4 linked regions of the Homo sapiens genome follow. The protein of the gene in region 2 purifies or fractionates together with the protein of the main gene of each other region. This does not show direct contact. Each region holds a gene or a part of one and is shown on either strand. Other genes may lie near its edges. The genes, in order: YAF2, DCAF6, NR2E1 and CALN1.

The links.
Region 1: the proteins of DCAF6 (region 2) and YAF2 purify together in Homo sapiens (affinity purification with mass spectrometry; 3 studies listed by BioGRID and IntAct, with this or other methods). This does not show direct contact.
Region 3: the proteins of DCAF6 (region 2) and NR2E1 purify together in Homo sapiens (affinity purification with mass spectrometry; 4 studies listed by BioGRID and IntAct, with this or other methods). This does not show direct contact.
Region 4: the proteins of DCAF6 (region 2) and CALN1 purify together in Homo sapiens (affinity purification with mass spectrometry; 3 studies listed by BioGRID and IntAct, with this or other methods). This does not show direct contact.

Annotation. Positions count from the first base shown.
Region 1 is NC_000012.12:42,158,224-42,165,250, forward strand, and holds part of YAF2 (YY1-associated factor 2), read right to left. Parts: intron 3,543-7,027; coding exon 3,390-3,542; intron 2,604-3,389; coding exon 2,366-2,603; 3' UTR 1-2,365. UniProt on the Homo sapiens protein: Binds to MYC and inhibits MYC-mediated transactivation. Also binds to MYCN and enhances MYCN-dependent transcriptional activation. Increases calpain 2-mediated proteolysis of YY1 in vitro.
Region 2 is NC_000001.11:168,002,676-168,009,702, reverse strand, and holds part of DCAF6 (DDB1- and CUL4-associated factor 6), read right to left. Parts: intron 5,834-7,027; coding exon 5,714-5,833; intron 5,171-5,713; coding exon 4,910-5,170; intron 1-4,909. UniProt on the Homo sapiens protein: Ligand-dependent coactivator of nuclear receptors. Enhance transcriptional activity of the nuclear receptors NR3C1 and AR. May function as a substrate receptor for CUL4-DDB1 E3 ubiquitin-protein ligase complex.
Region 3 is NC_000006.12:108,169,002-108,176,028, reverse strand, and holds part of NR2E1 (nuclear receptor subfamily 2 group E member 1), read right to left. Parts: intron 4,572-7,027; coding exon 4,426-4,571; intron 1,194-4,425; coding exon 1,106-1,193; intron 1-1,105. UniProt on the Homo sapiens protein: Orphan receptor that binds DNA as a monomer to hormone response elements (HRE) containing an extended core motif half-site sequence 5'-AAGGTCA-3' in which the 5' flanking nucleotides participate in determining receptor specificity.
Region 4 is NC_000007.14:72,409,320-72,416,476, forward strand, and holds the start of CALN1 (calcium-binding protein 8), read right to left. Parts: upstream 3,020-7,157; 5' UTR 2,739-3,019; intron 1-2,738. UniProt on the Homo sapiens protein: Negatively regulates Golgi-to-plasma membrane trafficking by interacting with PI4KB and inhibiting its activity. May play a role in the physiology of neurons and is potentially important in memory and learning.

The sequences.
Region 1 (7,027 bases), on a different chromosome or scaffold from region 2:
TTTCTCCAATCTCATAGTGCACACCCACCAGGTTCTTTAATTATGGAAAGATGGTCTTTCTGCATCCAGAGAAAACATCTGATATTACACTGAAAATTTAGTGAAATCTATAAAACACTATTACTTTAGGTCATCCAAGAGGGCAGGAAAATAACTGTTACAAAAAATATTTTTGTATTTTTGTAATGGGATTTTACCTATAACAATGGTAAAAGCTCACATTTACTGAGTGACCAGTATGTGTCAGATAATTAAGAATTTTACACGGATTGACTTAATCCTCCCAAAAACCCTATAAATTAGATGTGATTACCATTATTAGCCCTGTTTTATAGATGGAAAGTAAGCTTGGGTAATTTAAGCTCATTTCCATTCTACAACAGGATTCAAACATGAGGTGTCAGTTAGCACGCTTAATCTCCATGCTACACCGTGTTCCCGTCTATGTAGAAAGATGAGTATCTTCCCACCTATGTAGAAATATGAGTATGCTCCATTCAGGTAAAATCCCATCTCCTGTCAGATTTTTCTCTCTTGCAGCTCATTTAAAATACATCCTGAAAGTTATTTGATCATAAGATGTAATTCCTTTAAAGCATAGTTTTTGACTTAAAAATTAAATATTTTCCCTATTACATTTTTAAATTTTTACTATCTCCAAAAATGTATAAAACATTTGAAACATGTTAAAAACAGAATAAGACAAAAAAATTCATGTTTTAAAGGAACATATCTGGTTAGCTGGTATTCCATTGAAAGTATCTTATAATAAACACAAATTTTAATTTTTCATTTAACAACACTAAAGAATGAGGTATATAAATGTTTTAATCACAGACTTTTACTGTATGCAATTAATTGTATTTCACAACTAGCATCTTACAAAAAAGACAGTACCACTGTGCCTGTAAAAAGTACTGTAATTAAACAGAAAATTACATTACCACATGAAACCACCAAATATCACAACTGTTAGGGTCTACAGTTTTATTTTTTCTTCAAATGTTATCATGATGTCTTATGTGATATTTTGCATCCACATTCTATTTTTAAGTTCATTTACAATTCAGAAGTCTCCTTTAGGTAGATATATATTAAGCAAATGGTTAAGAGAAAGCAGGAGACCCCAGGAGAATTTAAGTACTGTGTGGTTTCTAGGTTGAAATTCTAAATACAACATAAAACTCTTTAAATAGTTGTAAACAAAAATGCAAAATCTGTAGTCATAAAAATATTTTATTGGTAATTTTACATAGTATAAGTGGGGCTATACTTTTTTCCTTTCAGGATACTGAGAAATGTGTAAACTGGCAGCTGTGTCTGAAAATAGGGTACTATGATTTTCATAAGAATTATTGTATTTAATAAGAAGCCAATTTGACTGATTTAAAATTAGTTATTTCCCATTTCTGTGCAATAATTCCCATTTCTGTTTTAATTAGATTCATACTTCTATGGCCCTGGATAAGTTTGGGACAAGAAAACAATGATAAAACTATCATTAAGTTAAAGCTTTTCTAAAATTGCAGCTTGTAAAATATGGCAAGTTTCTTTTCTCTTGTTTTTGCCAAATGCTTATAATTATTTGAATTTTAATGTTTTATATGATACAGAAAATACCAGTGTTCAATGACAATAGCACTAAACCTGAATTATAAAGCTAAATAATCAATGTTTTATTGTTTACTAGTCCGCTAGTAAACATTACAATAAATGAATGTTTTGAAAAATAAGCAAACAAAAAAACCTCAAAAAATAGATAAAACCAGAAACATAATTCAGGAACAATAATTAGTAAAACGTGTCAAAAACATTGGCAAAGGTTCATACAAATTCTTTATTTAATAACAATTTTCCTATTTAACCACACCAAGTACCAGCAGGTGTATTTAAGAGGATAACCATTAAGAAAAACCTGTTGCAGCAATAGTTAAGTTGTTCTTTGACTTGTATACATATAACTATCTGTTTCACAATTCTCAAATAATACATATTTAGGCAGCTTGCACTATGTTATAAAAAATTTAAATTCGTTACATGCCAATAGTAGAGAATTCAAGAATTATGTGTTAGAATTCACTAAACTAAAAGTGAAAATACACTTACCAATAACACTGCATAATGAATAATTCAACCACATTTTCATGGCACTTAACTGCAGAGACCAAAATGTTAAGTCTGGAAATGTTTGGTAGGCATCATTGCAATAAAATCTAACAAATTCTAACAAATTTCTATTTTATGTAAAACTCAAATTATGGATTGTGCATGAATGTATCTGTCATGAAAATGTGGTACCTCTTGGCATAATCTGTGTATTTGCATGGTAGGACAGAAGTGACTAAGAAATTGGAGAAAATAAACTTTAATGAGATTCTCCATTCAATGATGAGGCTTCTCCTCTGGGTGAAGATGACCTGGACATTCCTCTCTCTGTGTTATCAGAGCTAGAGCCGCTTTGACTGTGTTGATCTGCAGAAGCAGCACTAGATGCAGGCGGTGACTTTGTTTTCTCCTTAAAGTCTGTAATAATGACTGTCAGATCTCCAACAGTAACTTCCAAATGCTGAGCACTACTCCGATCCACATTTTTCAATCTTGGCCTAAACATAAAAAAATGAAATTTTAAACTAGCTTTTCCCTCTACCAAATTTCTGAGCATATAATAAATAATAAAAGTGGTAAAAGTAACAAAATGAATACATGTATTTAAGGCAATTTATGTGTAACTAGCCACAAAAACATCATAAAATGTTTCAACTCATTAACATTAATCAAACCAATCATTCATGAACATTCTTCAATGCAACCAAAAAACTGTGACAGCCTAGAAGTAGAACTTGTGCTTCTATAGCTGTATCATAATTTTGCAGACAGCTTATTAATTTTATTAAAATAGATGTTTTAGACAACAATGAAATAGTTGCACCATGGAGGAAGGTGATAAAAGCTAAGGTTGAGCTATATGCAAGGAAGACTGTTACTCCACTGACACACACTAATAAGGGTATCATGATTGTTATGACTGAACGCATGACCATTTTGATAGGTTAAAACCCATGCAATTATCTGTTCGGTATGTTGAAAACCACTCCTGGTTCAAATAGCTCTTCTTAAGGGAAAAACAAAACAAAACAAAACAAATCCAGACACAAATGTCTTCCAATCTCGTAAAAAGAAAAAAGCATCATCACATTTAAGCTTGTATTTCTGGCTTCTGTGTTTAATTTCCTATGTATCTTTCAAACTCAGTAAAACCTTTCCTGATACCTTATAATAAAGGAGACCAAATATTTTACTTCCACTTTGTGTATATTAGTATGTCAAGGTTAAAAAAATTAAATGGTTTTATTATTTCAAAAATGTCATAAAACACTCTTCACATTTACCTGGTTTTCTTATGGCTATTCTTTTTGCTAGTTGTTTCCTTTTCACTTTTTTCTTTTTCTACTTTATCTTTTTTCTCTTTCTTTGACTGTGTAGGAGGCACAAACTGCTGAGTAACCTGCTGTGCAACCAACTGGGAGACAGGTCGAGGTTTCCTGTGTGCATGTTAAAAAGAAAGGTATTTTAAATTACAACTTAAAACATAAGTGCTTTATGACAGAATATCTCACATTATGAAAACAAGTTAATAACAATAACTTTCAAGTATAAAAATTCCTCATATGTAAGGTAATTTAAATATACAATTTTAAAGATATGTATCAGTTTTTCCCGTTCAACAAAAATGGAACAAACTATAACAATTAAAATTTATAGTCTAAGATATATGCTCAAACATTAGAATACTGTTACGTAAATCAACATAAGAAATTATTTTAAATGTATATCAAAAAAAATGGGATGTACCCATATAAACATGAGTTCTAAAAATCAAACTTCAAAGTTTTCACTGAAATAATAATTTATCCCTCCTTCAGAGAAGGAAATACCTGACCATTTGTGACAATGGCTATCTGTTCTTTAAAGCTTTTCATTTATTCATTTAATAAACATTTATTATCAAAATTTCTCACTCCTTATTGCTTAAATCCTTTAAGTTTCTTACATCTCCAGCCACAATCTCACCATGCTCTTTTGACCCTGGAGATCTGCCCAGTCTTTTGAGACTCATCTACTTGCTAACTTACTCATTTAGAAAATATTTATTGAGGACCTACTGTAAGAACTGTTCAGGGATATCTGAAATGTTGCCTGGCTTCAACATCTGATGCTGGTACAAGCTTTCACCTGTCCAGCTTTGCCACAGAACTTGCACAACTGAGGTTAAGGTTCAAAATACAGTCTCTAAGTTCTTAAGAGAGAAAGAAGGATATAGCAAGGAAAGAGGCAGAGGGAAGGAGGGAAGAAGTAAGATAAAAATACATTTTAACAGATGCTCTACAAACAATGGTAACTTTATTGCCTGAAAAATCCTCACCCTTTTTTGGTTAGTACAGTTTTTAAAAAATCTTTTTTTCTCCTGTTCCTCTATGGCAAGACAACATAAAAAATAATGAGAAAATATTGTACAATCTAAGAATTAAAGCTGCATGGCTGAGAGAAAATAGGAAACAGTATGTAAAGCAGATATCAGGAGATGGATAATGAATTTTGCTCAGGGCCTAGACAGTCTGAACTACTGAAAGGATATCCAGGACAGATGTCCAATATACAACTTAAAAAATAGGACTGACATAGAGTTTGAGATGTAGATTAAGAGTTGCACAAATAAAAGTGATATTGAAAGTATGGTAGTTAATGGCTGAGGTTAAAAAAGAAAAGGGTTAAGGTGGTGGTTTTCAAATATAAGGTACATCAGAATCACCAAGAAGGCTTGTTTAGCTTGCTTAGCCCTACCCCGCAGGATTTCTGATTCAGTAGGCCTTGAAGTAGAGCCCAAGAAACTGTATTTCTAACTAGTTTCCAAGTTATGCTGATGTCTCTGGGGACCACACTTTAAAAAAAAGCTTGAGGAAATGCAATATATCTGGTGAATACTGTTACTACTATAAGATAAAGTTTGAGATGGAGAGCAGAGTGGCAGAGTGAAAAAAAACCAAGCTGGACAGATAAGAAGGGATCCCATGATTAAAAGCTAAGCAGTCTGATTTTATCCTTAAGTGATGATAAGTCACTGAAGAAATTCAGACTTGAATTTTACAAAGATTACTGGCATTAGTCTGAAATAGAAAGGTACTACACTACAGTAGAAGTAAAAATGTGAGACTAGTGGTCTAATAAATGATCATGTAATCTCTGTACCTAGTGTTGTTTGTTGTTATTTTCTAACCATCAACAAATTTTCTATAGTGGTTCTTTTTTTCTGTTCTTGAGTAGTTGCATATCTTTCTCTTTTTATCCTAGGCTTACCTAAATGTATACTACACAACTATTCCATTTTTATTCTTATTTTAATGTGAAGGTTGATTTTCACTTAAAGATTATGATTTTGTACCTCAATTCTATGATTATTTCATCTGGTTCAATTCTGAGAGAAAAGAAGCACAAAACATAAATGTATATAGTTCAATTATTCAAATAAAGTTCTCTGCTGCTCTCTAGGAGCTAAAGAGCTTTCACTGAAGGTAGGAGGAACACAGTTTATGATGATCTTTTTACAACATCGTAAGTCACTCAACTCCATGCCCTATTAAAAATAAAGCCCTTCTATCTCCAGGTATCTTAAGGTTTGTGATCCCTTTTCTATTTGATGAGAAAAATCAGGATAGGAGGAAATTTTAGAGGTAGGAAATAGTTAACTCAGGAAATAAAGGGCAGAGTATCATTTATAAAATATACCCTTTTATGTTCACAGATTTATCACTCATGGTTTTGACAGTACACTTTTAGTAATGCCAAAGGTTCTGTGATAAGGAGTTGATGTGCACAAAATGGTTGCCTAGTTAATAAATGACTACTGTCTAGCCACTGGCCAACTACAGTCCATCATCTACTTATTCACATATGCCATGATTAGACTGTATTTGTCAGATATGATATTCACCAATTTGGGGATCCCTATGTATCTTTCATAGATAGCCCAAATAGAAGGTATAAGTTTTGCAGTCTGTTGATTTACTATAATGTAAGAAAAGGGGGAACATTTTATTACGCATTAGGACAAAATATTTTTGGAGCTGGCTGACCTTCTGTGTGAGCAGGAGGTCAATACATGTTGGCTTCATATATGCAATTTTCAACTACGGTCTGCCTTCCACCCCCACTGACAAAAATCCCATGTGCTAAATATTAGAGGAATAATATTTTCAGCTTGATCAACTTCATCATAATTTAGCTTTGTCATGTTGGACAGGTAAGATGAAAGAAAGGAAAGAAAGAAAAAGAGTATTAAAAACAATGACATTCTTTACTAAAAAGAGGCAGCATAACTCAAATTTCAAAAGAAGTAATCTGCTTAGTAACACCAAAATATATGGTAAATTGAAGCGATATGGTAAATCTCATCAAAAAAAAAAGGCTGGACTAAATCCATACATATTGTGAATCTGTTGATACTCTGGCTAACAAACGCCCAAAAATCTAACCTAGGAAAGATTTTATAAAAAACCACCTGTTTACAACCAAGCGTGGTGGCTCACACCTGTAATCCCAGCACTTTGGGAGGCCAAGGCAGGCAGATCATTTGAGTCCAGGAGTTCGAGGCCAGCCTGGGCAACATAGTGAAAACCCATCTCTACAAAAAAAATACAGAAATTGGCCAGTAAAGGTACGCGCCTGTAGGAGGCTGAGGTGGAAAAATCGCTTGAGCCCAGGAGGTGGAGGTTGCAGTGAGCCACGATCACACCACTGCATTCCACCCTGGGTGACAGAGTGAGACCCTGTCTTCTGGAACAAAAAAAAAAAAAAAAAAGAAAAGAAACTACTTGTTTGATAAATTTTATTGCACATTTACATGTGTCAGGCACTAGGTAAGGAGATTAACCATGAACAAGACAAACATAGGCCCTGCCCTCATGCGCTAAAAATTAAAAACAAAAAAACTGTGTGTTGTGATAGAGAAAACAGGAGGAGGAGTTATTAT
Region 2 (7,027 bases):
ACTCAAGGAAAAGGAAGTTGGCCAAGTGATAAGCCAGGACAAGGGCTTCCCAAGCATACAGAGAATAACACTAAGAACAAAGTGTAAGAAGGAAAGAGGGAAAGAAAAGAAAAGACAGGAAAGAGAGAAAGATGGGAAAGGAGAAAAAGGAGAAAGAGGAGAAGGAAAGAAGGGATGGAGGAAAGAAGGAAGGAAGGAAGGGAGGGAAGAAGTGAAGGAAGGGAGGGAGGGAGGAAGGAAGAGAGAGAGACAGAAAGAAAGAAAGAGAGAGAGACAGAAAGAAACAAAAGAGAGAGAGAGAAAGAAAGAAAGAAAGGAAGGAAGGAAGGAAGGAAGGAAGGAAGGAAGGAAGGAAGGGAGGAAGGAAGGAAAGAAGAAGAGAAGAGAAGAGAAAGAAAAGAAAATGGCAGGGCACAGTGGCTCACGCCTGTAATCCCAGCACTTTGGGAGGCCGAGGAGGGCGGATCACAAGGTCAGGAGATTGAGACCATCGTGGCCAACACGGTGAAACCCTGTCTCTACTAAAAGTATAAAAAATTAGCCGGGCATGGTGGCAGGCGCCTGTAGTCCCAGCTACTTGGGAGGCTGAGGCAGGAGAATGGCGTGAACCCAGGAGGCAGAGCTTGCAGTGAGCCGAGATCACGCCACTGCACTCCAGCCTGGGCAACAGTGCAAGACTCTGTCTAAAAAGAAGAAAAAGAAAGAAAGGAAGGAAGGAGAAAAGAAAAGAAGGAAGAAAAGAAAGAAAAGAGAGAGAGAAAGAGAGAGAGAGAAAGCAAGCAAGTGGGAGGAAGGGAGGGAGGGAGGGGGGAGGGGAGGGGGTGGGGGCAGGGTGGAGGCGGGGTGGGGCGGGGGAGGGCAGGGCAGGGCAGGGCAGAATTTGGCACGGAAATTCTCTGATAACCGAAAGAAATCAGTAGTACATCTAGAGTGTAACAATCATCAAGTACTGAGAAAATTGAATGAGATGAGGCTAGAGAGACAGGGAAGGGCAGGCCATATAAATTCTTATACGTCCACAGTGAGGAGTTTGATTTTTTTTTCTTTTGTAGTTGTATTTCCAAATGCAATTAGGAACTTCTGAAGGGATTTAAACAGCAAAGTTATATAATCTGATTTAACATGTTAAAATACTCATTCTGGCTCCTGCATGGAGAATACATTATAATGGAACAACAGTAGGTACAGGCAGATTAATTAGGAGACAAGAAATGATGGTGAGATGAAAAGACCCAGGTTATAGTTTAGATACAGGAACAAAAGAACTTGCTGATGAGCTGGCATGGGACTTGAGGAAAAGGAAGGAATCAAGAAAAACTCACAGGTTATTCAAATAAGCAAATGGACCAAGAAGGAGCCAATTACGGAACAGGAAGGGTAGGAGGCTGCATTAAGTTTTAGTTTGAACATGTAGATTTATGACGTACAACAATAGGCCGGGTGCAGTGGCTCATGCCTGTAATCCCAGCATTTTGGGAGGCCGAGGCGGATGGACTGCTTGAGGTTAGGAGTTCAAGACCAGCCTGACCAACATGGGGAACCCCATCTCTACTAAAAATACAAAAATTTGCTGGGTGTGGTGGCAGGAACCTGTAATCCCAGCTACTTGGGAGGCTGAGGCAGGAGAATTGCTTGAACCCAGGAGGGGGAGGCTGCAGTGACCTGAGATTGTGCACTGCACTCCAGCCTGGGTGACAGAGTGAGACTGTCTTTAAAAAAAAAAAAAAAAAAAAAAAAAAAGATGTACAACAATAACAAAAACATACTGTCAAAATAGCAGTCAGACATCAGGCATAAGGGTCTGGAATTCAGGGTAGAAGATCAGATTGCTGATATATATATTTGTGAGTCATGAATTTACAGGAGATATTAAAAGCTATGAGGAACTGACACAATCACCCAGAGAAAGAGTGTATGTAAAGAGAAGAGAAGAGAGCCCAAACTAAGGGGTTTGATTATAATATTCAGAAGGAGATAGAACAAGAAACACGAACAACAGTTACTGAAAACCCACCAGAATTAATAAGAGTAAATAGGCAAATATGATATCATAGATACCAAGAAAGGAAAGTGTTTCAAGAAGGAGTGACAGCCTATGTTAAATGCAACCGGGTCGAAAAATCTAGTAAGGTACTAACAGAGAAATATCCTTTAAACTGGTGAATGTCACTAGTGACTTTGATTAAAAGTTTCAGAGGAAAAGGGGGTTGAAAAGCAGATGGGGGTTGGTTAATAAATAAATGAAGGATGGCAAGAAAATGGAGAGAGCATCTATCAACAACTCTTCTGAGGATTCTCATTACGAAAGCAGCAGAGAAATAAGGCAATAGCTGAAGGGGAATGTGAGATAATTAAGAGAAAATTTTTAAAGAAAGGAGATAATAAGAGCATGTTAAGGCCAAAAGAAACAATTTGGCAAAAAAAGGCAATGATAATGCAAGAGAAGGGGCGAAATCTTTGAGAAGCTGGAAAGGGATAGCAACTACATTGACTAGCTTTTGATAGGAGCTTTCTGCTTCTATCACAATGTGAGTACAGATGTTGGAAAGCTGGGAAATTATTGACAGTAGGAAAACGAGTACTTTTCATTGTGAATGAAAGGTTAGAATCTGGAAGTGGGGCGGGGATGAAGGGAAGTATTAAAGTTTGAGAGACATGAAAGTGTAAAATAGTCATTTTGTACAGCTGGAGAGCAACAGTGTGAGGCTGCTCTGATGCACAGTGTTGAGCACCCATTGAAATTTGTGGTCATAACTTTCTTCATTATCATTCAGTGATTCCACTGTAGACTAAGAGAAGGCAGACAATTAGGTTCAACCAGAGATGGAGCGTAGCAAATTTTCATATTCCCATTGTCCGTTTCTTTGATATCAGTAAAAATGAGGGAGGACATGTAAAGGGATAAACATTTACATAAAAAGGTATCCACAGCAAGGCAAGCATAGACAGAAGTATACTTTATCATTTTCTCTATCTCTATGCAGGGAAATAATAGAAATCATGGTCCTAAGCTGACATTTCCATCTACTACATTCACCCAATGGACAATTCCCAATATTCACAAACACATTTGGACTTAGGCTATGGCAAATGCAAAAGAGATTGGACAAAAAACAAAAACAGAAACAAATTAAGTCCTTACTCCTGAAACGTTGAACTCCAGAATAATGAAAAAGCTGTTATCAGAACAACTACAGTCATAACCTTCAGATGTTACATCTAACACCAAATCATTTTTCTCAATAGTGATAATGTCTTGATAACATGGAAATATTCTAATTATCTATAGCTTAGTCAACCAAAATTCTCTCAATAATCTCCCAGTTAAAAATATTTCCTTACTTCCTATAAATAATTTATGAGTAAAAGTACTGCATAATGTTTCAATAATCATCACATGACCACCAAAGATATTTTTTCTTCTTCAATAATTCAAATGATTGTCACATTTAATACTTACATTAAATATTGAAAGGAATTTAGCAATTTGAAATGCAGTAATTAAAATGCATTAGATAGCTTTAAAAAATAAAGTTCCAAATACTTTACTCATAAATATATTTAAGAAACAACTAGAATTAGTTGAGATTCAGTGGAAGCTGAATGTAAGCTAGAGTCTTCTTGCTAAGTTTTCCTAAAAACTTATAATTGATCAATATGTTCAAGAATATCACTTTAAAAATTCTTGCTTTTCCCAATTTTACCTGCTTTGAAAAACAAACTTTTAACTACTTCTGCTTTTAATTCCCAAATCTTCCAAAATATTTTATTTTTCCATAAATTAAAATGCTATGTCAACTGAGTGTGAAAACCTTGATTCTGTAGCTCAGCTTTAGCTTATTATTATGGATAAAATGTATACAGTGTTAACAGTTATGTAACTGACTCTGGCTTTTATTCCCATAGAAACTGAAAATGAATTACTAAAAGTGGTATATACTGATAAAAGAGTGCTTAAATTAAAACATCCCATATTTGGTAATCTGGCATCAGTTTCCAGAGATGTAAGAATAAAGTGACAGCTTGGCAGCTAAGCTGTTAGAAATTTTTTTATAGGTTTCAGCTTAGGCCTGCCAGCTATATTTCTAGTTGCTAATAATTCTGGCTCTATATTGAGTAAAATTCTTCCTTAGAAGAACCAAAGAAAACTATGAATAAATATCTTATTGGTTTTTATAATTACATGTATATAGTTTAAAGTACCGAGTAAACTGTAGATACATCTGCTGAAAATTACTATTATAAATACTAGCACATTCCATAGTTAGGGGAAAAAAGTTGACCATAAAGACTTATAATACTGAGAAAAAAATAGCATTTTAACAGAACGTAGAGGTTATTTTCACTAGCATCAAGTATCAAGAAGATAAGCATTTGGTAAAATAATTCTTTTTCATGTAAATACTAGAGAAACAAATTTTTTGGTAAATTATATGTTGTTGACAAAAGACCATATCAAATCCACCATAGAGAGTATATTAAAAGTACTGCATTATTTGAGGGAAATAATCAAGAATATAAGCAAAGTGAAACTAATACTGATATTTTCATAATCACTTTAATATAGACATAAAACCAAATAAATCTAGAAAGATATTTTGGTCTCTAATAATCTATAAAATAATATTTAAGTCAGGCACATTAAACTATGTCAAAACACTATCTTTTGGTACTTGTACTTTTAAAACAATTGTTTTATATAAATTGAAGATTCCTGCTATTTGTTAAAATTCATGCAAGTAAGACATAATTAATTTTTGTGTTTAAGTTACATAACCATATATTACATGTCATTTTGATCATTTATTCCAACAAGAAGTTGATGTGATTTAGTATCTTTCAAAATAGCCAGTAAAGAAATTTTCACTATCAAAAATCATTAGATGAACCACAGCATACTTATCCTCACCAGACTGATGATGTGTGTGGTGTCCAGATGCCTCAACAGACTGCCTTTGTTCACTGTCTGGAGAAGATAGCAAAGGAGTAGAATGAGGGCTTTCTGTGGGAGATGATGTCGAATGAGCCTGAGCTGACATTGTAGAGGATGTAGAAGGCTGAAGAAATTGTTCAGCTGGAGTATCTACTTCCATTGCAGTTTCACTCACTTCCAAATCAGGACTTGATGGGACCGTAGGAAGAGTTGAAATATCTGATTGACTTGTTCCACCTTCAAAACACATGTTAAGGCAAATTCAAATTTTAAATATTTTCTAAAACCAACAACTCTAAACAGATATGCTCAGAAAACACATTTATATTTACACACACAAATATATAATTTCAGTGATAATAACTACTGGTGATTTGGCCCATTTGACAAAATAGGCCAGTCAAGAGGGATAAAAACTTATCTACAACATATTCTTGTTAAAGCAATCAATCTTTCCTATTACATAAAACTTGTTTATACACAGAATTTTATATATTTCCATTCTCAGAGTGCATTAAAAAAAGGCTTAAAATAGGAAACCTCAGATTCTTCTACTTTACTTTGAGAAAAGCAAAAGATACGCACTAGGTCCAATGGCACCAGAAGGGACAAATTATATCCAATATCTTTTATTCTCTACTACTTCACACCACACAATAAGAACCTTGTGATTATTACAGATGTAAAACATGGTATAATTTACATGATAGAAATAAAAACTGGCTTCAATAAGTAGTTTTTGCCAGCTTTCTGATGACTTTAATTAACATTAAAAATTACCTCTGGGTCGAGATCTTCCTCGTCCTCTATTGCTTTGTGCAACCTCACTTGCTTCTTCAAACCATCTTGATAACATATCAGACATTCTCTGCATCAATGACACATTGGGACTCTGCTCTCCTATTACAATATAGGTCTTATCAGTGAGTTTAGTAATAAGTCAGAATCTTTCATTAATACAAAAACCTAGATTTGAAGGGCTTTAAAATGAAAGCATATTTTTAAAAATCAAATTTCCTAAATAAATTGTATGAATGTATATAAATCTATTAGAGCTCTCATCACATTTTATAGTAATTGTTTATATCAGTGACTTTCCATGTGTATGGTAAGGTTTCTTGAGAACAGGGCTCACCTCTCCTTCATCTTTGCCTATTCTTAGGTACCACTAAACCTCCCACTTCCTACCTCAACCTAAATTTTTAGTTCTAAGAGTACCCAGCCAAGAAAGGCTCATGAATTCTAAGTTTAATAGATTAAAAGAAAGGTTTTCCCTCTCCCTAAAGCATTATAATCAAGTACAGACACAAAATAGCCTTATGCTTTTGCATGAAGTTTCCTTAAAGTCAATTTATTTTCAACATCATTTACTGTAAGCAAATTTCAGATATTTGAAATTAACTGGAACCAGAAAGTATTTTGTCTCTTCCCTCACTCCTTTTCCTCCTGCAAGTAAACAAGTTTTTCCAAGGGTATTTTCAAATTAAAAGTGTAATGTCAAATTCAAAATGTGACAACTCTATTCTATAGTCTTATAATTTAAAATGAAAATCGGTTCTTCTTACATTTTCTGTGAAATCAGAGTTTCTTTTACACTTTATTGCCTTTATATAATGTAGCTCATATATTGGGGAATATGCTTTTGATCACAAGAGATGTTTCAGAAGTCATTATAGTAAGATTTTGGTTACAGACCAATTTAATAAAACATAATAATATAGAATTATAATTCATAGATTAATTCTATTTTCAAGTGTGCTATCTTAAAGCTCCCAGGGTTGATTCTTATGCTTATCAAAGGCACTTGATAGAAAACATTTTATGTGCTAATATAAAACCCTTGGGCTGAGTTTTCATTTCTCTTAATATCTAATAGAAAGGCAAAAACTGCAAAGTCTGACAATACCCAACGTACTATGGGGTAATGGGCATTCTTATACTTTCAGTGGGAATGTAAATTAGCACATCTTTTTTGGAGACTAATCTGATAACAACTACCAAAATTAAAAGGTACTTATCCAGTGACTGCGCCATTCCACTTCTAAGAATTTATCCTAAGATATATTTGCATAAGTATACCTATATGTATAAGAA
Region 3 (7,027 bases), on a different chromosome or scaffold from region 2:
CAGAAATAGCTTTTGGCCTCCGAGGGCCGCAGGAGGAAAGGACCCGAGCCCCGGGATTGCTAGGGAATGGAACGAGGGAGAACCCGTCTCCGAGTATGCTGGAGAAAGGCAGGGGAGATGTGACAATTACCACCAACAGTTTAAACAAACAAATTAATTCAGGGCAATCTTCGGCCTGCCGAGCTTGACAACTTGTCAATACACAAGTTCAACAGGTTGGACGCTCCCTCCGGCTTCCTGCGCCGCAGAGGAAGGGGCTCTCTCTCCTCCTGGAGCTGCCACCCGGCCCGGGCCGCCTCACAGCAAAACCCACTCGCACCCTGTTCCCAGGCCCCACGGTGTCCTCCAGCCCATTACCCTCGCCCCCTGCCTGGGCCTGGGGCGCCCTCGACAGGCTGCAGCGGGGGACGCAGCTCGGACCGTGCTCCAGGCCCAGGAAGCACTCTGACGTCCTGGTTCTTGCTGTTGCGCGCTTAAGAGCCTTGGGAGAGCTGGGTGTCCGAGGCACCCACGGGCGTTACCCTGCCTCTCCAGCCCCCTTTCCCTCTTTTCTGTAGAACAGAGAGAAGGCCCTGGACTCACATCGGCCCAATGGCCGTACTGATTTTGGCATCTTGGAGAATTTGCACACGGGCTGGAAATTCCGCGTTTTCGCGTCTCTGCCCTCCCTTTTTCAACACACCGCGAACTTCCAGCCTGTATGATCTCCTCCCCGTGAGACTATCCAGATTTTAAGATCCTGGGGCAGGCTAGCAGGCTTAAGGGTGGCCACGAAGGGCTGCAAAGAGGGATTAGGACCGGAGGCAGAAAATGCGCGCCGGTCCCCTGGAGAGTGGGGTCCCCCCAAGCGCTGCCTGTGTGGAGATGACTGTGGGGCGCAAGTTCCTGATGTGGGCATGGGTCTTGCCCTGGGGAATTCTAGGGGTCGCCAGCGGCTCCTGCTGAAAGACGGGAAGGATACGACTGAAAGCCCGAGGCCAATTCCCAGCATCTGGAAAGAAGCGCTCCGGGGTTGATTTACATGCATAGGAGTGCCATGTATTTTCTGTACATATAATTTACTTACTACTCAATCAACATTGGAATAAAGGGATGCACTGATTACCGTCTTTGTTCATGTTGACTTCCAAACACTTCTTCAGCCGACACGCCCTGCACTGGTTTCTGTGCGTCTTGTCCACCGGACAGCCTCCCTGGAACAGAGAGCAGGAGGTCAGCGGTCCCCAGGGCCTTTAGGCTGGAGACCCGGAGCCGGCACCCGGGCGGGGAAACGGTGTGGAGGCGCGACCTTGCCCGGCCGCAGGCCCTGGAGCCCCGAGCCTGGGCCTGCAAAACGCGAGGGCCTTGGGCATGAGCAGGGCCAGATCGAGAAGGGGCTGGGACGTCCCAGGCTACTTCAAGAGGGCCAGTCCCGGACCCCAAGAAAGCGGACAAGGGGGAAACGTCCTTCTCCAAGCAGGTGAAGCTTAGAGAGCCGGGTTTGGCAGACCCCGCAGGCCTGCGGGGCTCTCGCTAGGGGAACTTCCGCCAGTCGCGGAGTGGTGGAACAGGGACGAGACTTCAGGACCGAAGACAGCGACTTGGCCCCAGAGAAAGAGGCCACTAAGTTCCTTCCGTTAAGAGCTGGCTTTTGGGTCAGGATTCACACCATACCGCCCTCCCACCAACGATTCTTTCTGCTTTCAGTACTTGAGTCTACCTCTTTCTGCCACTTTCTGGGAGAGCCCGTTTATCTATCAGATAAATCTCTCCCATTTATTCTTCACTCTCCTATTACCTCACTTTTGCTTTTGTATGAAGCCAACCTTATTATCAGCAAGTTGAGAGTTGCCTTAAAGACTAGCCTCGGCCCAGGTGCATAGAAACACAGCCCTTCCTGGAAGGTGAGAGTTTAGGAGGGCAAGGCCTAGAGAAGATGAGGGTGAAAAAGGAAGAGCTCAAGTCTTGAGCAAAATATAGAAATGCTCACCATGTAAACAGGACCAGGAAGGTAATGTGATGGACTGTCAGACTAAATGATAATATGGGCTCAGACTGTTAGCATAGTAACTGAAAAAATAAAGGTAGTCACTTCTTTAGAAATATTTATCTGAGATGCATGAGAAATTAGATGTTTACCTAATGCAATTTTCTGTAAAAACATTAGCCATTGAAAGAGGAAATCTACAGATAAAGTTTCCTTTGGAATTTATTCAGTGTTAGATGTCATTACCGAGGGGACATATGCATAGATACATAAAGAGTCATGTGCATGAGTTTTATACACAGAAAATATTTAAGACATTGTGTGCTCTCCTATATTTATAGAAGTTGCTACTGTTAGATTTGTAGTGAGAAGAAAGATAATAAATGTATTTTTATTTTGCTTCATAATCTCAAAAATTCATATACTCTGGAGTTGGAGTAAGTATGTTTTTCTTCCCCCTGAAGCCCTTTAGGGGAAAATTACACATTCGAATGCAGTTTTATGAGTTCACACTTCTCCAATTTAAATTATGATGATTTATTTAAAATAAAGGTGGGACAGATGTTCATATCCATTTCTAAATGTCCTCATTACTGTTAATAATAAATTGGAATATAATTTAATCCTAGAATAAGAGAGAAAGGAGATAATTTTTGGGTCCAAAGTGAATTATTTAGGGCATCTTTGCTGGCCAATGTAATAGTTCATTGTAAACAGGTTTTTTAAAACTTGTTATTAAATGTAATTATATATCTATCCTCAGATGGTATCTTTCCAGTATTCTTATAAGTATGCAAATGCAAAATGGAAACCTTCATAAGTTCTTAAGTGTGTCTTCAAATCAGATCAAATGTATATAAATATCTAGCGCCAGAGAGAAGGATAAACGCCTCAGCTCTGATCATTTACTCTCCTTGCAAGAAGAACACCAGGCCTGATGAGTCTATTATCAGTCCTTTACAAGCACTTGGACTGATATCAATATGCTTGAATTGATAGCCATCCCCTTCTAAAAGATCAAGCACAACATCAGAGATCTTGATTTTCCAATTCTGTTCACTGCATAAAAGCAAAAGACAATCTAAGTAGAAGTTGGTTCAAATCTGACAACCCGCAGTAATCGCACAATCCTGTGGAGTTATTGGGATACAGTCCTATGCGTGTAAAATGTGATGTGTCCATATGGTGAAGCTAGAAACTGATACAGTAGCCAATTAAACAGGTAACAGGGCTAGAGAGCTCAAAATTTATCTCAATGCAAATATCTTCTGTTTTTGTGGTTAATCCAAAACTATTAGAAAACAATATGAGCAGACATGACTTCAGAAAAAGATGTCAGAACAATTCACTAGCAGCAGACAATATATGCATGTGTATACATGTACCCTATATATATCAATTAGTGAAAAGTGTTTTACTATTTTGTTACCAAAGGATGACTGCTGACTAATGCACCCTCAGGGATCTTTCCACAAGTGAAATGGAGGACTCTGTACTGAGGGTCTGAGTCGCTGATAAGGAGAGGGCAAAGTGTAGGACCAGAAGGTTGATCTCCTTAGTTAAAATCAGCCTATTATTGAGCTGGAAACTGAGTCAAGAGGTTCTGCTCACTCTTTCTAGAAGCTTTGGCTCATATTCAGCCCATGCCAGATTCCTCTGTCTCTTTGAGACAGTTCTGCCTACTCAAGACCAAAACAACCGACTGGGCCCAAATTCTAAGCAGAGAAGGAGGACAGGGATATGGAAGCTTGAGGAGGGTCCCAGTTGCACCTTCCTTTTGAATCTTCTCTTCTTCCTCACCCTGCCCTTTTCTGACAAGGCATAGCTAAGGTCACATGGGTGCTGGATTCCCACTGCCCACTTCCAGAGCAGCCCTGCTTCTCCAGAGTTGAAAATGCACAACCCTTCAGAAAGCACGGCCTCTCTTCCAAGTGGCTAGCACTCACTTGGTGGTCTCAGCTAAAGGTGGTGGTGACCTTGACTCAGATGTCTGTGTGCCGCTTACTTCTGCATCCCAGGCAAGTGATCAGGGGACTGAGCTTGATGCTGCTAGGAGTGAGTGTGGGGTGGGCAGGCACAATAACAAAGCTCTTTCTCCTGCTTGCTACTTGTGGTTTAGATGCTAAATTCTTTAGGTCCCTTGGGCCGGCTTTAGAGCCACAGGGTGTGGGCCTTACCCAGTGTCAAAATCTTTCAGAATAATAATAATTTAAAAAAGTGTAGGGAGGCTCTAGGACTTCAGACTCCCTCCTGTAAACTCATATCTTCCCTTACCTCTTCCCGCCTTTCCCCAGCCAAAGGGCCTCCAAGAGTTGAGGCAAGAAGGAGGGGAGAGGAAGGGAGAGGTCAGGGCCGGGTCTCTCCTCAACTGCGTGGAAACTCAGAGGAGGCCTTGGCACAAACAAAAGAGTGAGGAGGCAGCAGAGCGGAGCCCAGCAGTGCAGCCCTGGCTAAGGTACCTGGTTTCCAGATTTGCAGACATAGGTCCTATTCCTTCGGATGCTCCGTTTGAAAAAACCTGAGCAGCCGTCGCAGGCGTAGACCCCGTAGTGCTTCCCCGAGCTGCGGTCGCCACACACTTTGCAGGGGATATCTAAAATGCGGCCTGAAATCGCAGGAAAGACGGGGAAGGGGGGAAGGGGCGAGAGGGAAAGGAGGGCGGAGAAGAGGGAGAAAAGGGGAGAGGGAGAGAGAGATGCTAAGCAATCTGACCTCTGAAGGGATTAGCACCGAAGCTGCGGTAAAAGCAAATAATGAAGTGATTTTATACCCAAACTTTTTTTCCTTGAGCAAGTGTCAGTTTCCTACAATGAGCATTATTCATGCACCGCTACATGTATTTGGTTCTCTTCTAATCGCCGAGACCCATTTTGGAATAAAAGATGACAGCAGGCCCGGGCGGCAGTGCGGCCCTCCACTGCCTTTCTGCTCCGCGGAAAGTTTGGCCGCCTCCCTCCTTCGCTTTTGCATTTAACAGAGAAAGTTGTTAGTGAGCGCGCGAGGAGACAAACTTGAAATGTAAAAGGGAAAAGAAGAAAAACAAACACGGCTGGAACCAGGGATGGCAGCTGGAAGGCAATCGAGTTTTCTCTGAGCTCCGCCGGGCGGTGTTATTATTAGGATTATTATTGTAATGCTAATACTTGGATTATTAATGATAATAAGGGTAGTGGTAATTGGCCAACTTTCGCTTTACCTATTTAAAAAATGCTTGGTGAGTCGCTTTAGAGAAATTATTTCTTTTAGGAAAAAATTATTTTCTCCGCAAAGTGGTTCGGGACTAGGCAAGGGAGAGGGGAGCGACGCAAGTTGTCGGTTCCCTGTCGGGTTAGCTTGGGACAGGCTCCCTCCATTTCCTAAGCCCTTTCTCCCTAGAAGACTGGCCTCCACACACTTGGTCCTGTGTGGATCTCTTCCTCCCGGTTTTTTCCAGTGCTCTTTGAGCCTGATTTTTTTTTAAATTAAGAATCTGACTGATTTCTCTAGGCTGTATCCCCCCACCCCCCATGGACCCCACCTCAAGAGAACTTTCCCTGGAATCCCCTCAAGCCTGGGGTGGCCACCGACCCTGGAGGAGTGTCAGGGAGAGGGTAATATTTGGCCGTTTAGAAAGGGAGGGATTCTTTTCCTCTAAGGTTCAAGAGTCCAACAAGTGCCTGAAGCGGTTTATAGGGACTTAGAAATGCTTCCTCCCGCAAAACAAAGGGAGTATTAAACTGTTAACTTAATTAACACTTTAATTTTAAAAATAACAATAGTTGATAACAATTGACTTATTAACACTTGCTTTTCTCTTCTTCTACCTATCCGAAGGCCTCCAGTTTGGGCCCCAGCGGCCTCAGGCCTCCCTGAAATTCGACAGCTGCTGCCGAAAGCGCTTGGGTTGGGGACTACGATGGGATTGAGGTGGGAAGGGGCGGCAGTGGAACGTCTGGGCGAGGGGAGTAGGGGAGGTGAGGGCGTGGCGCGGGGAGGGCCTCGAGGCACCGCAGGTGTAAACTTGCTCCTGGAACCCGAGGCGTCCGGGCGAGCTTGCACCGTGGGTCCCAGACTCGTCTCAGGTGGAGGGGGTGGGGGAAGGAGAGCGCGGGGGACCGTGCTTGGGGGTGAGGGGGTGTTCGGTAACGACCAGGCTCGGCCGGGTAATTACAACCCCGCGGCAGCACCTGCCTATAGAGCCACCAGTGACCCGTCAAAAAGAGTAGCATGGGAATTCGGACGGCGACAAAGGCGGGCAGGGGAGGCGCGCGGCGCGGCGGCCACCGGCTCGGCGCCCCCCTCCCACAGGGCGGGAGGGGAGATTGTGCTGTGGGAGGGAGGGGCTGGAGAGGGCCAGGCAAGGGCACAGCGGGTCTTGTCCTCCACTCCTTCGGGCCTGTCACTGCGCCCAAGGGAGTTCCTGGTCGCTCAGGAACCGGGTCTGGAGCTCCGCTGCACTGCACTCACTCTGGAAGCGGTAAACTTGGTTTCCATATCTTACAACCATCCTCTGCTTAACACGCGCCCTCTGACCGCTCCAGGGTCCACGTTTGGGGCCCAGCAGTACTGTCACCCCAGCTGTCCTCTTCCCTGTGGCACTGTTGAAGATGCCAAGATGAGTGAGTGGGAGGAGCAGTGGTGGGGTCTCTTTTTCCCCACTTCCCATCCGGACAGGAGGCCCATGACAACATCTCTGGAGAACCCGATGAGGGTGGAGGGAAGACCAGTGCAGGGTGGGGGCCCCTCCTCGGATTCCCCCGCCCGAGCTTCCGGACTGTTGCCCTCTAGGCCACCACCAGTGCGAGTCCTGCCTCTGAGCAGACCTCTGAGCCGCGGCTCCCGGGGCAGATTAGAAACAGGCAACCGGGCTGGGGCGGGGCCCAGGAGGGAGGGACGCGAAAATTCCGGGGCATAGCGGGCCTGTGCCTCAGACTCCGCCACCCAGCCACGTTAAGGTGACTTGGGGTCACGAGACAAGCTGGTTGACCCCGTTGCAAAGCTCCTCTCATTTAGCAAGCCGAGCGAGCTCCGACGTGAGGCGAGCCGGAGTTTCCTGAAGCTGGAAAACCGTTCTTAACTTCC
Region 4 (7,157 bases), on a different chromosome or scaffold from region 2:
GCTTGTAACCCATGCACCAGATTGGTTGCTGAAGGCCACAGAGGCTGAAATGATGAGGTTGGCCAGTCCACTCAGACTGTATCCACATACCTCCCTTCCTCAGAGGCTGGCGCAGAGTATAATCTTAAACGGATCTCTGTGCCAGCCTCTGAGGAAGGAGGCATATGGATAGTCTGAGTGGACTGGCCAACCTCATTATTTCAGCGTCTGTGGCCTTCAGCAACCAATCTGGTGCATGGGTTACAAGCAGACTCAGCACACCAAAGTCTTTCATGGATTTGATCCCTTTCAAAGTATCTAAAATTCCAATCACTGGGAGCAAGATTGAGCTGAAAATCTAATGTTTGGGAATGGAGAGGGATGAACCTGCATTGTTTATGGGCATAAATAATTCATAAGCATGGGTTAAATGGTTTTTAGCCTCTGGGACCCCATGGAACAGTGGTTCCCAGGCTGTTACTCGAAGACCCAATTCAAAGAATCACCAAGGAACGTTCCCTCCCTTTTAACCACGTTGGGCATCAAGTTACAGTCTTTTCTTTTGCATCTTGTGGTCTCTGCTAGATTTTACAATTGTTGAGGGCCACATTATAATCAGTTTTTTCCCTGTAATGCTTGATAATGGTTTTCCCCTTGGTCCTTTCCTCTAAAACCCTGCAAAGATGCACCACATTTAACCCACAAAAAGAATTTATTTTTGTTATAACTGAACATAATTCTTTCTTGAAGATATCTTTTGGACAAAATGTTCCATTGTGCGGGTCATGCCATATGGTGTGTAATGGGGTACGAGTTGCTGACAAAAAAGACGACAGGGCAGAGTGTGAGCTCCAGCCTGCCCCAAAGCTAAGCCCTGCATTTGCTGGAACATGAGAGCCTGGAGCTCTTAAATATGTAAGAGAGGTTGTCAAATCTACTTAACTGCTTATGAGCAATGAAGTCTCATCACTGCACTTGTGTTACTGACTCTGCAAAGGTGATTGTTGGCCATCATTTTGAATATCTTACTACTAAGATGTATTCAAAAGCACAAAAAAGAAATCTAAAACTGCCAATCTAGGACGTAGAAAATGTCCATGGAATTCCTTGAAAGATGCAAAAGCGAAATCCTTCTACATGATGTAAAATCAAAGTTGTTTTCTCCCTATCTCTGCCCAAAACCAATTAGATATCACGGAAATAAAATATATACACAAGCAAAGCCAAAATTTTAAGTCCACATCTGAAAACTGAAATGAGCTTTTCAAATCAGCTCAATTCTTCTGCAAGTGAGACTTCTCAGGAGCCCTAATGTCCCTTCATGTCCTGGCTTAAATTCGCATAAGCAAAACACCCTAAACCCTGGTTCTTCAAAATGAAAACCAAGACCCTATGAACGGCTCACAATTAAATTAACATTGAAAATCAGAGTAAAATAGGGAACTATATATATTTCCTGAACATAAATACACACACCTCCGTATCAGCTCACGAGCCAGCACCCTACCTTCTTACTTTCCAAGAAGCACTAGAAACTTTATTGCTAAAATCAGAAAAAATACAAGGATGTTTACTATCTCTGCTACTATTAACACTGTATTGTAGGCATTAACCAACATGATTAGACAATTAGAGGCATAAGATGGGAAAAGAAATAAAGTTATTTTAAGGTGATATGATTATATGTATGGAAAATCCCAAAGAATTCATGAAAAAACGATTACAAATAATAGGTGAATTTAGTAAAGCATTAGAATAAGACCAACATACAGAATTTAACAGGACATGTGTAGAAACAGAAGATAATGTATGAGCAGAGCCTATTTATAAGAGCAAACATAAAGGTTTTACAGATTTGAAAAAAACTATCAAAAGGAAAAAGCAAAGCAATTCCTTAAAATAGAAAATGAACTGAAACATGCAAACACAACTGTATTTCAAGTTAATGGCTTAACTACAGAGAAAACCGTTTTTTTCAAGTTACTTTAGAACATAATATTTTGACTGAGCTTTCCACGTGAGACCTAAGTCTCAGGACAAAAAGAACCACAAAGAAATCATACAAAAGAGATTCATGTAACATCATTAGGAATCAAGATTTTCTATGTTAGAGAAAAGAGCTGTAAATATAACAATTTTAAGGTTAAGTAAAAACTCTGAAATCTAGTTTGAATAAAAATATCACTGTGAACTCAATTTATTTTTGTCTTTAAAAAAATATGGACGTATCAGTTGTGTCACTGAAAAGACGTCAAGGTAATAAAACTCAGGCAATGAGCACTCAAATTGTAGTCTCAAAATACCACTTCCGGCTAAGTAATCAGCTCCATGGGAGGAAATACGAAAAGTCTTGTCAGGCCTAAAAGTGGATAAGTTCTCAATGATGCCAAATGACAGAGAAACTAACTGGAAGACACAGCCAATCACCAAATATGGTACAACTCATTATCCTGAAAATTGACATGAATGTAATTGCTAAGGAATAAAGTAATTACTCTTTTAAAGTAATAAGAAAAGAACCAAACAATTGTCCTGCTTTTTCCATACAGATTATATTCCAGGATAACCAAATAGTTGATGAAGCAACTCTCTTTTAGAGAGGTATCATAAACCGATAAAGAAAAAATCATAGATTAAAACACCACCATAATCCGGAACTTGTCTCCAGACTATGAAAGTACCCAGATGGCTCCCAAACCTGGCCCAGCTGGGAACTGCATGCAGCTGAGCCCACCATGCTCTTTAGTTTCTGTGCCCACCTGTGTGCGGAATTTATTCCTTCTGCTGGGTTGTTGGTCTCGCCGACTTTAAGAATAAAACCACGGACCTCGCGGTGAGTGTTACAGCTCTTAAAGATGGCGCGTCCGGAGTCGTCTGCTCCTCCCGGTGGGCTTGCGGTCTTGCTGACTTCAAGAACGAAGACGCAGACCGCGGCCGTGAGCTTTAAAGGTGGCGCGGACCCAGAGTAAGCAGTAAGCTTTATTAAGAAGCAGGAAAGAAAAAAACACAAACTCAAGCGGATAGCACCCCAGCGAGCTTCCCCAGCGGGCTCGGGGAGCCAGCTTTTATTCTCTTATTCAGCCCTGCCCATGTCCTGCTGATTGGTCCATTTTACAGAGTGCTGATTGGTCCATTTTACAGAGTGCTGATTGGTCCATTTTACAGAGTGCTGATTGGTCCATTTTTACAGAATGCTGACTGGTGCATTTACAATCCTCTAGCTAGACACAGAGCACCGATTGGTGCATTTACAATCCTCTAGCTAGACAGAAAAGTTCTCCAAGTCCCCACTGACCCAGAAGCCCAGCTGGCTTCACCTCTCACACCCAGGGGCCACTGCTGGAGGAGCAGCCCCAGCCCTTGTCCCCTCACCCTTCCCCCATGGAACCTGCTTTGGGAAAAACAAACTGGAACAATAAAAATGCCCCACATTCCAAATCAAGCCCTTGTCAAAGTCCCTTGCTTTCAGCCCAGGAAGTTTCTAGAAGCAGTCAAGCCACAGGACAGAGAAATATCTGGTGGCCCAGCTCTCCCTGGAGAATCCATCTCCCACCTCCAAAAGGAAGCACCCAGACCATGGAGGCCACAGCCCCAGGCCTGGCTTTCCTGGTAGGATAATATTTAGGGTTACCCTCTTTCTCCTGGGGCAGCTGGTCTAGCTCCGAGAAGGTTCTCTGATGGCTGTGCTGGCTCACGCTAAGCCCACCTGGAGTAGGCCAGTGGCTGGTGGCCACCTTCAGACCTGGGCTCACCCGGGGGGTTTGCACTGATGGACGCCCTGGCAGAGATCACAGAGGCAGGTTCTGTTAGACACATATGCACACATACACTCTTACACGTATGCTCACTTACATGCTTACACATACACTCATATGTACACACTGACACTTGTGCCCACCCACTCACACACACACACTCATACACACATATACACTCACACACACCACACATACACACATATACATTCACACACACATGCACACACACACCACATGTACACACACACGTATACATACACACACTAACATACACTCACATCCACACATACATTTACATACACTCATCCACACACACCCACGAACATACTCATACATGCACACCACACATGCACATTCTTACACACACGTACACTCACATAGACTCACATACCACACATGGACACACGTGCATACTCATACCACACATGCTCACATAAGGACACAAACTCACACATCAGATACACTCATAAACACGCACACTCACAAGCTCATACATGCATGCACTCATGCACACCACACACACACTCATACATATACACACTAACACATGCACACATACATATATACACTCTCACTACACATACGCATATAAACTCACAGTTATGCACACACTCATACACATATACATTCACACTCACACTACACATACACATATACACTTACACTTATACACACACGCACAGCACATATGCACACACATACACATAACAAACACACTACACAGACACGCACCACTCGCAAACATTCCCACTTATGCATTCACATGCATGGCACATACACAAACATGCACACACATCACACACACTCGTATACACATGCACACACACACTCTTACATACATACACACGTACACACCGCACTCCCATACATGCACCCTCACATATACTCCCCCTTCCTTCTGTTTCCATGATGTCTGCTGTCTCCAAGGCTTTCTGTTTTTGAGTCCCCTGCTACAATTAAAATACTCCTGAGAGCAATTAAGCTTTGGCAGCTAATAACTTAATTACCCACTAATACCGTATCTTCCCATCACCCTCGCCAAGCAGGAGCAGTGAGGTATGAGACGGATTCACTCATTGGAGGCAGACCGTGGGAAGATCCAGGATCCTAGAGTTTGGCGGGAAGCTCAAGAGACCCATGCTGGAGCCAGAGGCCCATGGGCCTCCTTGAGTCCTGGGGCCGAATCCTTCGTTCTGTGCACCTACTACAGAGCAGTGTCCTTAACCAGGGCTTAAAATTATCTACCAACATGAAGAGTGACCTACAAAAGAAACTGACCTGATCAACCCCTAGTTCACAATTGGGTAGAGCGAGACAGAGAGGCTGAGTGGCTTCCCAGGGTCACACAGCTTCTCTTGCAGGCCAGTGCCTTCTTGATGCCAGACCAGGGGTCCTGGGATGGGTGGTGGCAAGACCCTCACACCAGCCTCCCTGAACTCACTCCCCACTCCACCCTAACACTAGCATGGCAGCACAGAACTTCCCAGAGACGTTACAGAACAGCAGAGATTGGAAGTCCAGTGTTGGCCCCCAGTCTGGATAATTCAAGCAAATGTTTGAAGGGAGGATGTCCTGAATTTGCCATAAGCTGTATTTCTCCCAGGACGACTGAGAAGCAGTATCTGTAGATGGGGGAACATGAGCTCTGTACCCCTCTCTGTTGCCAAGTTCATCCATTTCATGGCAATGGTTTCCTTCCATTTTTGTGACATGCTTGGATGGCCCAAGACTCCACTGGTCATTTAATTTCCCTTCCCAGCCCCCAAATATATATCCTGAATTCCACATATGCTATGGAGTGAATTGTGTCCCTCCTCCAAATCCTTACGTTGAAGCCCTCAACCCCAATGTGACTATATCTGAAGATAGGGGTTTGGGGAGGTCATTTTAAATGAGGTTTTAAGGGTGAAACCCTAATCCAATTGGACTGTGGCTTTATAAGAGGAAGAGAGGGATCTCTATCTCTGCCATGTGAGGACACAGCAAGAAGGCAGCTGTCTGCAAGCCAGGAAAGGAGTCCTCCCTAGAACCTGACCATGCTGGCACTTTGACCTTGGACTTCCAGCCTCCATAGCTGTGAGAAAATAACAGCTGTTAAGGTATAGTTTAAGCTCCCCACCCGCTAGTCTATGGTATTTTGTTATGGCAGCCTGAGCAGACTACTACAAGGTACCTAGATCTTTCTCCCTGTGGGAGCACCTGGGTCTAATTCATACCATTGTGTCATCCACTCCAGATGCACCTGTATTTTCTCCTTCTTATAAAACGGGGCATGCCAGCTCAAATGCCTACAGGGACCAGCAGTCATGCCAAGAGGCAAAGACCACGAGGAAGTGGCTCCCTTTGTGCAAGGCGGTAGCCACGACTCATCACCCATCCATTGTTGCTATGAGTGAGTATGGCCCGGCATTGCCAGATGTCATGATTTAAAGAGGAGCTGGAAATCCAGATTGTTAATAAATCAGCTGATTTTTTAAATGCTGGCAACAACTTCTAAGTTTCAAAACACTTTGGGAGAAAACCAACACACAAGTAACACAAGAAGAAATAACAAACACACAAGTAAACAAGAAGAAACAACAACAAACCTGTTTGTGGGCTGAACCAGGCCTGTGAGCCACCAACTCACAATCTCAGTTTCGTCGATCCTCCTGGGAAAATGCTGGAAGCCTGAGCGGTGACTAAGACAGCAGGGTCCCAGGCAGTGGGGCAGAGGCCCGTGAGGGTACGGGGGGCGCGGGGGGCATAGAACTGCGCTACTGGACGGTGACACCGCCTGCAGGTACCACCACGCTCCTTCACCTAGGGCTTCCTTTGGCCAGTGCCCACCCAGGTGCCTGAGTCTGATCTGTTCCCAGGGACCAGGATCCCACATCTAGAGGCAGGACAAAAACAAACAGCCCCAGCCCTGGGCTCCATTTCTTTTAAGGTTGTGGGTCTGCTTCTGAAGCTGATCACCAATGCTTGTACCGTTCCCTTCGCCCTACCCTTGACATTTTCCAGTCTCCACCTGTGATGTTGAGGTGGGAGGCAGGACTTGACTCCAGACCAGACTGAAGACTGGCTAAAATAGGGAAGAGGCCCTGGAAGCACCTCTCCGTGAGACACACCCACCAGTGCCATGACAGTTTACCATTGCCATGGCAACACCCAGAAGTTACCACCCCTCTTCTAACAATTTCTGAATAGCCTGCTCCTTAATTTGCATATAATTAGAAGTGGGTATAAATATGACTGCAGCACTGCCCCTGAGCTGCTGCTCTCCACACACTGCCTATGGAGTACCCCTGCTCTGCAGGAGTAGTCACAGAGCTGTAATGCTGCTACCTCAATAAAGCTGTTTTCTTCTGCCACTGGCTCAGCCTTAAATTGTTTCCTGAGTGAAGCCGGGAACCCGGCTGGGCACGGTGGCTCACGCTG